Linked DNA regions of Homo sapiens: region 2 is linked to region 1. Evidence: fine-mapped expression QTL. Tissue or cell type: sigmoid colon. Region 1 holds a variant in brackets; the other region holds the start of a gene. All regions are shown on one strand. Distances are from middle to middle.

What was found. PIP is the estimated chance that this variant, and not a neighbour inherited with it, causes the effect.
Region 2: SOX30 starts here. The variant in region 1 is fine-mapped to the expression of SOX30 in sigmoid colon (GTEx, PIP above 0.99). The same link has a PIP of 0.9 or more in monocytes.

The regions. Positions count from the first base shown.
Region 1 is chr5:157,673,932-157,676,689 of GRCh38, forward strand. It overlaps C5orf52 (chromosome 5 open reading frame 52), which reads left to right. Exons shown (of 3, transcript NM_001145132.2): 2 at 1,161-1,269. Among named protein-coding and RNA genes, the nearest start is that of C5orf52, 3.8 kb to the left of the region's middle. The variant G/A (reference allele first, on the strand shown) is at 1,220.
Region 2 is chr5:157,650,894-157,653,651 of GRCh38, forward strand. SOX30 (SRY-box transcription factor 30) reads right to left here and starts at 1,545. Exons shown (of 5, transcript NM_178424.2): 1 at 219-1,545. The coding sequence starts at 1,185. It overlaps LOC105377675 (a long non-coding RNA gene), which reads left to right and starts at 913. Exons shown (of 3, transcript XR_941127.3): 1 at 913-1,439. RefSeq lists an enhancer at 1,188-1,482.

The DNA of each region.
Region 1 (2,758 bases):
CAACTTGCCCGGTCCTGAACAATTATTTTTAAATGGACAAAACCATTTAAAGATATATGTTCATAAGACTACTTCGTGGTGTAACCAAATTATCAAAAAGTGAAAACTCAGTGCCTGTAAGTGTATCCACTTTTCACCATTTTCTCATTTTGACCAAATTGTTGTATTTTCACCTGGAGTACTTGGCTCCATTCTACCCCACCCCACCCCATCTTTCACCTCTCACCTTTCAGAGTCTCCTAAAACCCCTAGCCACCCCATACCTCCTTCACTTTTCTAAACTCCCCAAACTTTCTTCCAGAATTTCCCTGTTAACCAGCCTAACACCTGTCCAAGCTTTTCATTTGCATTTCTCCCTGCTCTGATTTATACTCCCCCAACCCCCCACCTCCCAGATCCCCTTGAAGCATATGCTCTAGAGCAAGTGCCCCCCAAGCTAAACACCTCCCAGATTCATCCTTCTGAATCCTACCCTACAACTTTACTCCTCTCCTCTAAGACTCCTCTCACCATTTCATCCTTAAGAAGGATCATCAAGATGACTGCTTTTGGCTGGGTGGGCGTGGTGGCACTTGCCTGTAATCCCAGCACTTTGGGAGGCTGAGGTGGGTGTATCTCTTGAGGTCAGGAGTTTGAACCCAGCCTGTCCAACATGGTGAAACCCCGTCTCTACTAAAAGTACAAAAATTAGCCAGGCATGGTGGCGAGTGCCTGTAGTGCCAGCTACTCAGGAGGCCGAGGCAGGAGAATTGCTTGAACTGGAGGTGGAGTTTGCAGTAAGCCAAGATTGCACCACCACACTCCAGCCTGGGAGACAGAGTGAAACTCCGCCTCAAAAAAACAAAAAACACAAAAAGGGTGACTGCTTCTGAGGATGGTTCTGAGTTCCTGATAACCCTTCTCTTAAGGACTGCACTAGGCCATTTTACATCCTCAGAATGGCTTTTCTTCTGGGTAACCATGAAATACCCCTTTAGCATACCTTTTCCACAACAAGAAACTGTGGTTACTCCCCTGTTCTTTTGAAAATTATGACAGAGCTGCACTTGTCCCAAGAAACCCGGGGAAGCCTCAGCCACTCCCTCAGGACCCCATCAAATGTGCTCTGGCCCAGGCCCCAACCGTCTGTAACCTGTGCCACCTTTCCCTCCCTGCTCCAGCTTAATGAATTCCAGTGAAGCAGCGATGAAAAAAACTTTACCCAAGAGCCATTTATCTC[G/A]GGTGATTATTCATGATAACCGCATCACACAACGAATCTATGAGATGGAGGTAAAGTAGCCACAAGCTTTTGCATTAGAGGGTGTTAGTGGCTTGACCCATATTCATTTCATTCTCCCTATATGCTGGGATATCATAGAGGTGATAGGGAGTCATCAAGGTGCTCTAAGGCAGGCCCCATTTTACAGAGGAGGCAATTGATACTCGGGGTTACTGACTTGCGCAAGGTGTCGCACCTGTTCCTGGGCTAAGGGAGCCAGAGAGAAAGACTCCATGTCTCTTGGGTCTTTTTTTCTGAAAGCACATTATCTCTCTATTTAGGGAATCCATGAATGGATTCTTATTTTCTCCCATACAAAGTCTTGGGTCCTAGGCCACACGCAGTGGCTCATACCTCTAATCCCAGCACTTTGGGAGGCTGAGGCAGGAGGATCACTTGAGGTCAGGAATTCGAGACCAGCCTGGCCAATATGGTGAAATCCTGTCTCTACTAAAAATACAAAAATTAGCCAGGTGTGGTGGCAGCCAGGTGTGTGGCAACAGAGCAAGACTCCATCTCAAAAAACAAACAAACAAAAAAACAGAAAACCAAAGTCTTGGGTCCTAGAGTTTGAATGGGCCTCAACACCATCTTGTCAATTTTTTCCTTTGGGGATTATCCCCATTTTCCAGATGAGAGCTGAGGCTCTTCTCCCACTTTTTGCTATGGACAGGTAGAGTTTCACCTGCTTACTCGAAATCCTGAGTGCTGTCACCCCACTGTTCCCATAGACCCTGATTGATGGATTCATTAAACCTGTCCTTAGGGCCTGCTTGGGACAGGTACTGTGTTGGGCGCTAGGAAGAGACAAGTGAACAAGATGGACTCCAGAAACACACTCATTCTTTCAAGCAGAGCAGGGTGCCCAGGGTTGAGCTGCTGCCACCTTCTTTTCTTTTTTGAGACAGAATTTCATTCCTGTTGTCCAGGCTGGAGTGCAGTGGCGCTATCTCAACTCACTGCAACCTCTACCTCCCGGGTTAAGCAATTCTCCTGCCTCACCCTCCCAAGTAGCTGGAATTACAGGCATGCACCACTACGCCCGTCTAATTTTTGTTTTATTAGTAGAGACGGGGTTTCACCATGTTGGCCAGGCTGGTCTCAAACTCCTGACCTCAGGTGATCCACCCACCTCAGACTCCCAAAGTGCTGGGATTACAGGAGTGAGCCACCACGCACAGCTGCTGCCTGCTTCTTGACTCTTTTGAGCTTCCTTCCATGTTCCAGGGTCAAGTCTGGATGGGCCCACAAAATTCTAACATTAAAAACAATTGGAGATCCTTAAGAGATGGTGCCAGATCCTCTTGAAGGTCACAAACACCAAAAGAAGAGTAGGGACCCGGGCATTTCTCTTTCTGCTACACTTCCATGGGTGTGGTGTAGTGGAAATAGATGGGCAAGCCAGCTTTGTGTGACCCTGTGTGAATTACACTTCCTCCAGACTCTGCTTTCTCATTTGTAAAATAGGATCTATTAAGATCCTCTCAGTTGCAGGTAACA
Region 2 (2,758 bases), 23 kb before region 1:
TCGATTTTTTAAAAAATACTTGAGAATCTTGAAGGCATTCGTGTATTTTACTGCTATATGTACAAGTCGATCAGAAGTGATACCTGTGCAGACTCTGCCCTGAAAACAATCAGTTCCATTACTTTACTTTTGTAGTTTAGACTTGGGAACTGCTGACAAAACAGCTATGGGCAACACAGACGCAGTTTTGAAAACCCGACTCCCCTGCTGTCTAATACCTGCATCTGAGGGCAACACGGTGAGCGGGACATCTTTGGTTTCAATTTTTACAGAAGGCTCCAGTAGGGACTGCATTTTAGTAGGCACTGGTGTCAGGGGGACCTTGGTCAATCTTATCAGCTCTGAAGGCGGAGCTCCCTGAAACTGGATCCGGGCCCCAGGGGGGACCGTGTGGAGCGTCAAAGGGATCCTAAGGTCTTGCTGGTGCGGCCCAAAGGCACCGGACGTTGGGGCCAAGATGACCTCCGCGCTGCCATGAACCAGGCCATTGGACGCGGGCTCCGCGCCGAGCCTGCAGTCCTCGAGGAGTCTCTCGGGTTCCTCCGTTTTGATCACACCTTCTCGGATGGCTGCCGGGCTTTTGCCTGCCCCGCCTTGCATCGAGTCTCTCATGACCTCCTCCGCCTCCAGCTTGCCCTTCTCGTCCCCTCGGAAGTAGCCGAGGGCCGGCCCGGGGCCTTCCAACTTGACCACCCTGGAGGCTCTAGGACCGGTTTCGACGGCCCCTCGAGGCCCCACTGACTGATCCAGGCTGGGCCCCAGCTTCTGCTTCTTGGCCTTGACATGCAGCGCCAGGGGCTGCACCGGGTGCAACTCGGGCCTGGAGGTGGCGCCGTCTGACGCTGTCGGCGGCTGCAGGAGCCGCAGGTCGGGCCTGAACTGCAACAGCCGCGCCTGCGCGGACGAGGCAGCGGCTTCCTCGTTCTGGGCCTGAGGCTGTGGTAGCAGCAACACCTGCTCTGGCTTCACCTGCAGCAGCCGCCGCACCGCGGGCTGTAAGCCGGACGCCACTGCCTCCCCGCACGACGAGGCCAAGGTCGCACTGGCTGCCGCGCTCAGTGTGGGAGACGACGGAGGGGGCTCCATGGCTGCTGCCCAAAAGGAGGTGCCCTCGACCGGCAGCGGGGGCGGAGCGGGACGCAACGGGCGCGGCTGAGGCGGCGGCTCGGGTCTGGCTCTCTCCATGGGGGAGGGGGACGCCCCGGCCAGGATTGTGAGCTCAGCCGTTTGTTGGCGACCTTCCCCCTCCCCCTTTCGGTTAAGAGCCTTGCAAGGCCTTTGCTACCCAGAACCCTACGCGGTTCAAAACGCAGCTGTCTGTCTGGGCCTCACCCAATCACAACGACCGATACCCGTGGACGGCCAATCACAGGCGGGTTTTCCGGCTCTTCCTGGTCCCTACTCTCGCCTCGTGCTGAGTCCTCGAATCACCTGCCATGGTAGGAGCCGCCGCACTTGTTGCACATTTTCGTTCTGACTCTCTTGTGGAGTTCTCTTACAGCCGTTGTCTTTAGTCATCCCTCCCCCACCCGGAGCTGCGACAATGGCGTTGCCCAGGAAACGTTGCGCTTCCAGGCCGCTGACATCCAGGGAATGAAGTCTTGCGTCACAAGGGGAGCGACGGCCTTGTGCACGCGCTCTGTGCGGCCTGAGTAATCTGTCGGCCCTGAGTACCACCAGGGCTTTTGAATCTTTGCCAAGGGAGAATGGGGAAGATTTTGCAACTTATCAATAACCTATTAGCTAATGTTGCTGGGGAGGATCTTCGACTTTGTGTGATTATTGTGCTAAAGTTTCAATTAATCACCAGGCCCTGTGGCCCTACTTCCAAAATACTATACATCCCAAATTCATCCACTGTTTTGTGTCTCTACCTGCCATTATCCTGTTCCAGGCTCCCAGCATCTTTCACTGGGATACTGCCGTAACCCTGTAAATAGTCTCCCTGCTTGTCACCCTTGCCCCACTACACTCCAGCTGCCAGTGATCTTTCGAAAACGCAAATCTAAGGTTGTCACACTTTTCCTAAACTTTCCATGGCTCCCCACTGATAATGTAATGAAAGTCTAAAATTCTTAGCAAAGCCTTAAAAATCCCCCAGTGGCTTGGGATCTAACCTCCTACTACTGCTACTATTAGATTGGTGCAAAAGTAATTGTGGTTTTTGCCATTAAATAGTTATTGAGTCTTTGGGTTTCAGCCACATTGGCCCCATCATCATTCTCTTTCTACTGCAGGGTGTTTAAACATGCTCAGCATGCTACTCTTTCCTTTGTGTCTCCTTAATTCCTCCTGCACATTTTTCATATTGCAGCTCAACTGGGACTTCTTCAGAGAAGCTTTTACTGACTCTGAAAATCAGATAAAATCTTGGTCTACTTATACCTCTATCACTTGGTTTGCTTACCACAATTTGTAATTAGAATTTTCATGTGATGATTCCACTGCCTCTCCCACTTTAGACTATAAAGTCCTTGAAGGCAGAACAGTTTGTGTTTTGCCCATCACTGAATCCACAATGCAGACCATTGAGCCTGGCATATAGTACTCAATAAATACTTGTTGAATAAATAAATGAATAGCGACTGTGATAGGGTAATAATAAAATAGTAATAATCACTACCTGTGTTAAGGGCTTACTCTTATGCTAGACACTGTTCCAAATCCTTTCCATGTTTATGTTTCTCCTTTTAGTAGGATTGTGTTTATTTCCATTAAACATCACCAAGAAAAACAAAAAGAAATCCTGTATTAACAT